Regions from separate parts of the Homo sapiens genome. Here region 2 is linked to region 1. The links come from fine-mapping of genetic effects on gene expression. Tissue or cell type: whole blood. Region 1 holds a variant in brackets; the other region holds the start of a gene. All regions are shown on one strand. Distances are from middle to middle.

What was found. PIP is the estimated chance that this variant, and not a neighbour inherited with it, causes the effect.
Region 2: TYK2 starts here. The variant in region 1 is fine-mapped to the expression of TYK2 in whole blood (INTERVAL, PIP above 0.99). The same link has a PIP of 0.9 or more in nasal epithelium.

Annotation. Positions count from the first base shown.
Region 1 is chr19:10,351,230-10,356,229 of GRCh38, reverse strand. TYK2 (tyrosine kinase 2) reads left to right here. Exons shown (of 25, transcript NM_003331.5): 19 at 1,621-1,718; 20 at 1,996-2,188; 21 at 2,584-2,702; 22 at 3,132-3,304; 23 at 3,679-3,796. Among named protein-coding and RNA genes, the nearest start is that of ICAM3, 14 kb to the right of the region's middle. RefSeq lists a silencer at 2,269-2,318 and an enhancer at 2,220-2,983. The variant G/A (reference allele first, on the strand shown) is at 2,366.
Region 2 is chr19:10,378,260-10,384,607 of GRCh38, reverse strand. It overlaps TYK2 (tyrosine kinase 2), which reads left to right and starts at 4,036. Exons shown (of 25, transcript NM_003331.5): 1 at 4,036-4,228; 2 at 4,829-4,993; 3 at 6,182-6,348. The coding sequence starts at 6,202. RefSeq lists enhancers at 3,407-4,070, 3,979-4,138.

The sequences.
Region 1 (5,000 bases):
TTTTTGTATTTTTAGTAGAGGTGGGGTTTTGCCATGTTGGCCAGGCTGGTCTCAAACTCTAGACCTCAAATGATCTATCTGCTTCAGCCTCCCAAATTGCTGGGATTACAGGCGTGAGCCACTGCGCCTGGCCTCCTTAATGTTTTGTCTGGGGAGAGACACAACTTCTTTGGATTAGAGAATTAGACCACTGCAGTTTTTTTTTTCTTTTTAAAAAAGTTTTGTATTGTTCTCTTTAAAAAATTAATATGCTCTTTTTTCTTTTTTTTGAGACGGAGTCTCACTCTGTTGCCAGGCTGGAGTGCAGTGGTGCAATCTTGGCTCACTGCAACCTCCGTCTCCCAGGTTCAAGTAATTGTCCTGCCTCAGCCTCCTGGGTAGCTGGGACTACAGGCGCCCACCACCACGCCGGGCTAATTTTTGTATTTTTAGTAGAGACGGGAATTCACCATGTTGGCCAGGATGGTCTCAGTCTCTTGACCTCGTGATCCACCCGCCTCGGCCTCCCAAAGTGCTGGGATTACAGGCATGAGCCACTGCGCCTGACCTATTTTCTTTTTTTTTTTCTTTCTTTCTTTTTTTTTTTTTTGAGATGGAGTTTTGCTCTTGTTGCACAGGCTGGAGTGCAATGGCACGATCTCGGCCCACTGCAACCTCCGCCTCCTGGGTTCGAGCAATTCTCCTGCCTCAGCCTCCCGAGTAGCTGGGATTACAGGCGTCCACCACCACACCCAGCTAATTTTTGTATTTTTAGTAGAGACGGGGTTTCACTGTGTTGGCTAGGCTGGTCTCAAACTCCTGACCTCAGGTGATCCACCCTCCTCAGCCTCCCAAAGTGTTGGGATTACAGGCGTGAGCCACCACGCCCGGCCTAATATGCCATTTTCAACTGGTCATATCACATTTTTCTTTCTCTTTTTTGTTTTAAAGACTAGGTCTTGCTGTGTTGCCCAGGCAGGAGTGTGGTGGTTATTCAGAGGCACGATCATGGCTCACTGCAGCCTGAGACTCCTGGGCTCTAGGGATCCTCCTGCCTCGGCCTCCCAAAGTGCTGGGATTACAGGTGTGAGCCACCACGCCTGGCCAGTTTTTCTCTTTTCTCTATGAAATATCTGTGCCCTCTACCCAATCTCGGAACTTCCAGATGTCAGGTTTTTCTGTTTTTTCTTTTTCTTTCTTTCTTTCTTTTTTTTTTTTTTAAAGACAGTGTCTCTCTGTGGCCCAGACTCACTGCAGCCTCAAAACTCCTGGGCTCAAACGATCCTCCTACCTCAGCCTCCTGAGTAGCTGGGACCACAGGCATGCACCACCACACCTGGCTAATTTTTTTTTTTAACTTTTTTGTAGAGAGGGGGTTTCACCATGTTGTCCAGGCTGGTCTTGAACTCCCGGGCTCAAGTGATCTTCCCGCCTCGGCCTCCCAAACAGGTGTCAGTTTTGATGCAGCCAACTCTGCATCATTTTGTACAATAAGTGGACTCTTTCAGCTGTTGCAGGAAAAAGTTTTCTTACCTCTAGAATCGGATCCTGGGGTAGCTGTGGCTGGCTTTGTGACTCCCAAGTGTGGGCCTGCTGGGGAAAGGATCGGGGTCAGGCCTTTACCCACCGCAACTCTTCCAGATCTTGCTGACGTCTTGACTGTGAACCCGGACTCACCGGCGTCGGACCCTACGGTTTTCCACAAGCGCTATTTGAAAAAGATCCGAGATCTGGGCGAGGTGAGGGACGGGCCTGAGCTGCTAAAAGGCCCGCCTGGTCGGGAAGGAGTTTGGGGGTTGAGGATAAATTCCTACCTAAGGTGATTCTCAGGAGATGTGGGTGGGACCCTCTGCTTTGAGGGAGGCCTAGGTGCCAAGGAGTCTTAATAGAGCGGAGTAGGCGGGGCCTGGGGTATTCCGAAAGGATCTGCCTGGAGGAGTGGCCCGGGAAATCGGGGGTTGGGGAGTGGTGCAGGGATTGGGGAGGTGGAGCTGACCCTCGTGCGCTCCCGACCAGGGTCACTTCGGCAAGGTCAGCTTGTACTGCTACGATCCGACCAACGACGGCACTGGCGAGATGGTGGCGGTGAAAGCCCTCAAGGCAGACTGCGGCCCCCAGCACCGCTCGGGCTGGAAGCAGGAGATTGACATTCTGCGCACGCTCTACCACGAGCACATCATCAAGTACAAGGGCTGCTGCGAGGACCAAGGTGGGCGGGACCCGGCGAGTCCTAGAGACTTGAGGGGGCGTGGTTAGAGCGTGGGTGTGGCCTTGTGGGCGGGGCCAGTCTGGCCTAGCCAATTAGAGACTCTCAACCCCAGGCTGCAGTACGCGGTTCTTGGCATCTGGGTGAGCGTGGCTGGGCTGCCTCCTTCCCATCTGGGGG[G/A]TGCTACCTGCTGGGGCCAGGATGGACGGGAGCCACCAGCAGCTCCCTCAAGTGAGAATGGGGTTCTGGATGGGTCCATCCCACCTGAGAACTGGGTCTAGTGTGCGCGGGTCTTGGCCTTCCCTCCCGACCTTGGAGGGGCTCTGCTGGGCTCAAGGTAGGCGGTCCCCGGCCCGCCCTCTATCGTCCCCCACCGGGGCCGCCCCTCTCCGCGGCAGGCGAGAAGTCGCTGCAGCTGGTCATGGAGTACGTGCCCCTGGGCAGCCTCCGAGACTACCTGCCCCGGCACAGCATCGGGCTGGCCCAGCTGCTGCTCTTCGCCCAGCAGATCTGCGAGGTTGGTCGGCCCCGCCCCTGCTTCTGGAGCTTGCCCCTTCCTCTTCAGCTTGGGCTGGCCTGAGCGATCCGGTGCAGTCTGCTCTCACGCTCCGCCCCTGCTCGTTTGCCCAGGCTGTCTTGTCCTTGCACTGACCTCCGAACTGTTTGGCTTGCTTGGCCACACCCCCTCCTCCCAAGGGACCACGCACAGCCGGCTCGGCCCCTCCCAACTCGCCCTCCTGCCCAGCTTTGCTCGTCTAGCCCCGTCCCTGCTTTCTGGCTCAGCCTCCTTTTGCTTGGTGCCACGTGCCATCCGGCCCTCTCCAGCGGCCGGGTAGCCACCGGCCTGACCTGACTGTCCCCCAGCCCTCCTGGCTGCTCAGGTCCTGCCGCCGCCCCCGGCCGAACCCCGCCCCACTGAAACTCACGAGCCCTGCCCCGTCCCCAGGGCATGGCCTATCTGCACGCGCAGCACTACATCCACCGAGACCTAGCCGCGCGCAACGTGCTGCTGGACAACGACAGGCTGGTCAAGATCGGGGACTTTGGCCTAGCCAAGGCCGTGCCCGAAGGCCACGAGTACTACCGCGTGCGCGAGGATGGGGACAGCCCCGTGTTCTGGTGACCAGGCGGGGTGCAGTCTGAGGGGGTGCTGGGGTCACTTGGAACAGGCAGGGTGGAGTAGACGGATGCTGGGTATCATGATAGGGCATGATCCCAGTGAAGCGCGGCGGGGCCTAGCGGTGCGGGGGTGGGGCCTATGGAGGCAAGGGGCGGTGTATAGAGTGCGGCTTGGCCTGGTGGGCGGGGTTAACCCGGCCTAGCCAATGAGCGGCCTAGCCAATGAGCATATCACCCCGCTCAGGCTGCGCTCTTAAGGGTGGGTCCCAACTGAGCCCAGAGGGTCCTTCAGTCTCAGGTGAGGGCTTCAGCCTGGTCTGATCCCCAAGCCCTCAGTGCAGCCCCCCGTGGCCTGAGTGCCCCCCTCCCCCTAGGTATGCCCCAGAGTGCCTGAAGGAGTATAAGTTCTACTATGCGTCAGATGTCTGGTCCTTCGGGGTGACCCTGTATGAGCTGCTGACGCACTGTGACTCCAGCCAGAGCCCCCCCACGGTGAGAGCCAGGCCCGCAGCCCCACCGGGAGTTTGCTAGAGCAATTAGAAAGGCATAGGCTGGGCCAGGCGCGGTGGCTCAAGCCTGTAATCCCAGCACTTTGGGAGGCCGAGGCGGGCGGATCACGAGGTCAGGAGATCGAGACCAACCTGGCTAACACGGTGAAACCCGTCTCTACTAAAAATACAAAAAAAATTAGCCAGGCGTGGTGGCGGGCGCCTGTAGTCCCAGCTACTCAGGAGACTGAGGCAGGAGAATGGCATGAACCCGGGAGGCGGAGCTTGCAGTGAGCCGAGATCTCCCGACTGCACTCCAGCTGGGTGACAGAGCGAGACTCCGTCTAAGACAGGACAGGACGGAGAGAGAGAGAAAGAAAAGAAAGGAAAGAAAGGCATAGGCCGGGCGCGGTGGCTGACACCTGTAATCGCAGCACTTTGGGAGGCCGAGGCGGGCAGATCACGAGGTCAGGAGATCGAGACCAGCCTGGCCAACATGGTGAAACCCCGTCTCTACTAAAAATACAAAAATTAGCCGGGCGTGGTGGCAGGTGCCTGTAATCCCAGCTACTCAGGCGGCTGAGGCAGGGAGAATTGCTTGAACCCGGTAGGCGAAGGTTGCAGTGAGCCGAGATCATGCCACTGCACTCCAGCCTGGGTGAAAGAGCGAGAGACTGTCTCAAAAAAAAAATTCTGGACGGTAAGAACAATCTGCTGTGAGGCTTAATAATAACGGCAAACACCTGACTCACGCTTACTCTATGAATATTAGTTTAACGTTCACAGTAATCCCAGGTGGCAGATGTTATTACCCTATTTTACGGATGAGAAAACAGGCCCAGAGAAGTGAACTCAAATTCAAAGTCACACAGCTGAGAAGTGTAAGAGGTGGGATTGGAACCCATGCAGTCGATTTCATGAAGTTGCAGAGTGATTTCTTTTTCTTTTTTGAGATGGAGTTTCACACTTGTATCCCAGGCTGGAGTGCAATGGCACAATCTCGGCTCACTGCAACCTCCGCCTCCCAGGTTCAGACGATCCTCCTGCCTCAGCCTCCCAAGTAGCTGGGATTACGGGCGCCTGCCATTATGCCCAGCTAATTTTTGTATTTTTAGTAGAGATGGGGTTTCACCATGTTGGCCAGGCTGGTCTCGAACTCCTGACCTCAGGTGATCCACCCACCTCAGCCTTCCAAAGTGCTGGGATTA
Region 2 (6,348 bases), 28 kb before region 1:
GCTCATGCCTGTAATCCCAGCAGTTTGGGAGGTCAAGGCCAGAGGTCCACTTGAGCCCAGCAGTTTGAGCCCAGTAGTTTGAGACCAGCCTGGGCAACATAGTGAAAACCCATTTCTAAAAAAATTACACACACACAAAAGTTAGCCAGCCGGCCAGGCGAGGTGGCTCACACCGGTATTCCCAGCACTTTGGGAGGCCAAGGCGGGAGGATCACGAGGTCAGGAGATCAAGGCCATCCTGGCCCACATGGTGAAACCTCGTCCCTACTAAAAAATACTAAAAAATTAGCCGGGTGTGGTGGCATGCGCCTGTAATCCCAGCAGTTTGGGAGGTCAAGGCGGGAGGACCACTTGAGCCCAGTAGTTTGAGACCAGCCTGGGCAACATGGTGAAAACCCATTTCTTTTCCTTTTTTTTTTTTTGAGATAGAGTCTCACTCTGTCGCCCAGGCTAGAGTGCAGTGGCGCGATCTCAGCTCACTGCAAACTCCGCCTCCCAGGTTCAAGTGATTCACCTGCCTCAGCTTCCCAAGTAGCTGGGATTATAGGCACCCACCAACACACCCGGCTAATTTTTGTATTTTTAGTAGAGACGGGGTTGGTGGAAGCCCATTTCTATAAAAAATACACACACACAAAAGTTAGCCAGGCGGCTGGGCGCGGTGGCTCACTTCTGTAATCCCAGCACTTTGGGAGGCCGAGGCGTGAGGATCATGAGGTCAGGAGATTGAGGCCATCCTGGCCAACATGGTGAAACCCCATCTCTACTAAAAAATACAAAAAAATTAGCTGGGTGTGGTGGCACACGCCTGTAATCCCAGCTTCTCTGGAGGCTGAGGCAGAAGAATCGCTAGAACCTGGGAGGCAGGGATTACAGTGAGCCGAGATCGTGCCACTGCACTTCAGCCTAGCAACAGAGCAAGACTCCGCCTCAAAAAAAAAAAAGTTACCCAGGCATCGTGATGCACATCTGTAGTCCCAGCTACTCAGGAGGCTGAGGTGGAAGATTGTGAATGGTGAATCTGGGAAGTTGAGACTGCAGTGAATTGAGATCACAGCACTGCACTCCAGCCTGGGCAACAGAGCGAGATTCTTGTCTCAAAAAAAAAAAAAAAAAAAAAAAAAAGAAAGAAAGAAAGAAGAGAAACCCAGCTGGGCGCGGTGGCTCACATCTGTAATCCCAGCACTTTGGGAGGCCAAGGCGGGTGGATCACCTGAGGTCAGGAGCTCGAGACCAGTATGGCCAACCTGGCCAAACCCTGTCTCTATTAAAAATACAAAAATTAGCCAGGCGTGGTGGTGCACGCCTGTAATCCCAGCTACCGGGGATGCTGACGCAGGAGAATTGCTTGAACCTGAGAGGCAGAGGTTGCAGTGAGCCAAGATTGCGCCACTGCACTCCAGCCTGGGCAACAGAGCAAGACTCTGTCTCTTTAAAAAAAAAAAAAAAGAAAGAAACTTCCCATGAAATGTCAGGTTGCAATAAGGACTCTGAAGAAAATACAGCAGAGCCCAGGAGGTCAAGTTGCCCAGGCTGGAGTGCAGTGGTGTGATCACGGCTCACTGTAGCCTCAACCTCCTGGGCTCAAGCAATCCTCCCACCTCAGCCTTCGGAGTAGCTGGGACTAACTAATTTTTTTTCCCCCCGAGATGGAGTCTCACTCTGTAGCCCAAGCTGGAGTGCAGTGGTGGGATCTCAGCCCACTGCAACCTCCACCTCCTGGGCTCAAGCGATTCTCATACTTCAGCCTTAGACTAATTTTTTTTATTTTGGGTAGAGATGGGGTCTTGCTATATTGCCCAGGTTGGTCTTGAACTGGGCCCAGACAGTACTCCTTCTTTAGCTCCCTGAAGTGCTAGGTTTATAGGGATGAGCCACTGCATCCAGCCAGGACAAGTCTCTATCAGCATTTTATTTTATTTTATTTTATTTTATTTTTGAGACAGAGTCTCACTCTGGCGCCCAGGCTGGAGTGCAGTGGCGCAATCTCGGCTCACTGCAAGCTCCGCCTCCCCGGTTCACGCCATTCTCCTGCCTCAGGCTGCCACTACGCCCAGCTAATTGTTTGTATTTTTAGTAGAGACGGGGTTTCACCGCCTTAGCCAGGATGGTCTCGATTTCCTGACCTCATGATCCGCCCACCTCGGCCTCCCAAAGTGCTGGGATTACAGGCGTGAGCCACTGTGCCCGGCCTCTATCAGCATTTTCTTTCTTTTTCTTTTTCTTTTTTTTTTTTTGAGACAGAGTTTAGCTCTTGTTGCCCAGGCTGAAGGGCAATGGTGTGATCTCGGCTCACTGCAACTTCTGCCTCCCAAGTTCAAGCGATTCTCCTGCCTCAGCCTCCTGAATAGCTGGGATTACAGGTGCCCACCACCATGCCCAGCTAATTTTTGCATTTTTAGTAGAGACAGGGTTTCACCATGTTGGCCAGTCTGGTCTTGAACTCCTGACCTCAGGTGATCCGCCCGCCTCCACCTCCCAAAGTGCTGGGATTACAGGTGTGAAAGAGACCATTCCCGATCTCTTTCAGCATTTTCATACTGAATGTCCACAGCTGCCCTGTGAGGAGGCTTTTTACCCATATTTTCTGACTCAGAGAGAAGCAGCCACATGTCCCTTGGCCATGGCAGTTAAGACCAACTCCATGGAGCTGGGTGTCTTAGCTCACATCTGTAATCCCAGCACTTTGGAAAGCCAAGGCAGGATGATTGCTTGAGGCCAGAAGTTCAAGACCAGCCTGGGCAACATAGCCAGACCCCATCTCTACAAAAATTTAAAAATTAGCCACAAAATTTAAAAATTAACAACAAAAGGGCCGGGTGCGGTGGCTCACGCCTGTAATCCCAGCGCTTTGGGAGGGTGGATCACGAGGTCAGGAGTTCGAGACCAGCCTGGCCAAGATGGTGAAATCCCATCTCTACTAAAAATACAAAAATTAGCCGGGCGTGGTGGCGGGCGCCTGTTGTCCCAGCTACCCAGGAGGCTGAGGCAGGAGAATCGCTTGAATCCGGGAGTCTGAGGTTGCAGTGAGCCGAGATCGCAGCATTGCACTCCAGCCTGGGCGACAAGAGCGAAACTCCATCTTAAAAAAAAAAAAAAAAAAAAGTGGAAGATGAGGAAGTTGATCAGACATCAAGGATGAGCGGATGACTTAATAGGCTTCTTTGCTAAGACTTGGCTGGGCAGGTGAAAGACAAAGTCGAGGAGTGGTTATGGTGTGGCACAGAAGAAGGGTCAGAGGACGGTCTTTGTTACCTCTTCATGCCTGAGTTTCTTCCTCTGTGAAATGGGGATAATAAGAGCCGCCATACAGGGAATTGCTGCTAGGATCAAATGAGATAATGTATGTGAAACGCTCTGGCTGTAGGCTTCTCAGCAAATGGGCACGACTTGCGGAGTGGGGATTTGAATTCACGTCTGGCGGGATGTCCAAGCTGCTACCCTGACCGCTAGGGAGCTTCAGAGGACAGGGCTGCAGGTGATCAGGAAGAGGACTGGGGCAGGTGGGCGAGGAATGCCTCCCAGGAGTGAAGGAGGGGGAATTCTAGTCAGCAGGATGGAGTCGGCCAGGTAGAAACGAGGGAAAGGAGACAGGACCGGATGGAACGGGGAAGCCAAAGGGCAGGGCGTCGGAGGGTTGAATGGTGGCCGGTGCAGCTTTGAACACCGAGGTGAGGACATGCAGCTGTGTCCTAGGGTCAGGACCGTACACGCCTGACCCAATTCCACAGCACGGAGGGGAACTCCAGGATCCGGCCGCGTTGCCCACACACTTCGCTCTCCCTCCCGCCTCTCGCAAGCCCCTCCCCCGTCTCCGTCCACCGAGTGCCAGCCAATAGCAGAAGCGACAGCGCATCTGGGTGCCGACTCAGCCAATCGCGGCTGAGTGACGAATGAGCCCCAGGACCAATGAGAGTGCCGCCACCATGGCAAAAAAAAAAAAATCCAATGGTGACGAGCAGGGAGAACAGAGCAGCTGCCAATGGGCGTGTGCGTTTCAGGCGGCCAATGGGAGGAGGCGTCTCGGCGGGGGACAAGCAGTAGCTACCCGCGGGAGCGGGGAGGGGTCCGGGTTCGAGCTTGTGTTCCCCCGGAAGGGTGAGTCTGGACGCGGGCGCGGAAGGAGCGCGGCCGGAGGTCCTCAGGAAGAAGCCGCGGGGACTGGCTGCGCTTGACAGGCTGCACTTGGATGGGAGCACCTGGTGCCTCGGGACTGCTCCGATGCCCGGTGGGTGCACATCCCAGTTCCCGCCGTTGCCGGCCGGGTTTAGAGGTTTTGGGGGGAGGACATGGGGGCGTGCAGCCTTCCCAGTTGCAAACTTCACTCCGACCCTGTCTTCAAAGCTGGGTCTGGGTCCAGTGGGGACGAGAAAGGAGGAAGGAGGAAGTAGGCTCCGCGAAAGCCCCATCCCCGGGATCTCATCTATAACATGAATAGGTATTAATGGCAAAGGCTAATTAAGCGCTTACTGTATACCAGGCACTTTCTCTGCCTCCTCGCGTTAAATCCTCCCAGCAGCCTTTTGAGGTAGACACTGTTACATGCCCATTTTCCAGATGAGGAAACCAGCAACATGGGTGGAAGTGACAGCCCCTCCACTTCCATACTGGCGCCCTCAGGAGGCTCAGGCCCTGGATTGGGGGGATGGAGCTGGACATAAACTCTCCTAGGCTTTGGGGAGTCAACAGGGACTGAGGTCACTCATGGGGGTAAATGTGGGAGAGGAGAATTGTGGCCTGAAAGAGGCCATCACCACGATGAAACTAATAACAATTATGTTATTCTTGTTTTGGTCATATTTGTTCTTTTTGTGTGTGCCTGAATCAGGGTCTGTGCTGAATGTGTAATATGCGGAACTATATTGAAACATTACAACCATCTTTTGATGGCAACACCCTGAGGACCTCCCTTTTCCAGATGGGGAAACTGAGGCCCAGAATTGCTAAGTGGCTTGCTTGAGTTGACACAGGGAGCTCCAGGACTCACCCTCAGGTATGTTTGACCACATCTGCCTGTCTGGTTATTTTGGGGAGGTGTGTTAAGAGCAGATTTTTATTTTACTTTTTATTTATTTATTTATTTATTTATTTATTTATTTATTGTATTTTAGTAGAGATGGGGTTTCACCATGTTGGTCAAGATGGTCTCAATCTCCAGACCTCGTGATCTGTCCGCCTTGGCCTCCCAAAGTGCTGGGATTACAGTCATGAGCCACCGCGCCTGGCCCTTTTTATATATTTTTATTACTTATTTATTTATTTATTTATTTATATTTTTAGAGTCAGGGTCTCACTCTGTCACCCAGGCTGGAATGCAGTGGTGCGATCACTGCTCACTGCAGCCTCCAACTCCTGGGCTCAGGAGATCCTCCCACTTCAGCCTCCCGAGTAGCTTGGAGTACAGATGTGCACCCCCACGCCTGGCTAAATTTTAAAAATTTCTTGTAGAGGCCGGGCACAGTGGCTCACGCCTGTAATCCCAGCACTTTGGGAGGCCGAGGCGGGTGGATCACCTGAGGTCAGAGGTTCAAGACCAGCCTGGCCAACATGGCAAAACCCTGTCTCTACTAAAAATACAAAAATTAGCCCGGTGTGGTGGCAGGCGCCAGCTACTCAGGAGGCTGAGGCAGGAGAATCACTTAAACCCAGGAGGCAGAGGTTGTGGTGAGCAAGATTGTACCATTGCACTCCAGCCTGGGCAACAAGAGTGAAACTCTGTCTCAAAAATAAGATAAGATAAGATAAGATAAGATAAGATAAGATAAGATAAGATATAAAATAAAACGTCTTGTAGAAACAGGGTCTTGCTATATGGCCTAGGCTGGTCTCGAGCTCCTGGGCTCAAGCAATCCTCTTGCCTCAACATCCCAAAGTCCTGGGATTAGAGGCGTGAGCCACTGTACCTGGCCAGAGCAGATTTTTATATCTGTGTCAATTTGTGGAAAGAGAGGAGGGTTCAGTGTTATTGTTGATGAGAGATCTAGGTGGGGATGCATACCCCAACCCTGTCCAATAAATGTGGAAAACGAGACTCAGAGAGGGAATCGGGTCTCTAATGTCATGCCAAGATGGGAGCCCAGAATCTTCCCCTCAGGCCTTAGCTGGGGTGGGTGGAAGGTTGAAGAGCTAACAGGGGTCTCTGGGCTGAGACTTGGGAGCTGACAGATTGTCCCCTTTCCAGCTGAGCCACCTGCCGGGAGCATGCCTCTGCGCCACTGGGGGATGGCCAGGGGCAGTAAGCCCGTTGGGGATGGAGCCCAGCCCATGGCTGCCATGGGAGGCCTGAAGGTGCTTCTGCACTGGGCTGGTCCAGGCGGCGGGGAGCCCTGGGTCACTTTCAGTGAGTCA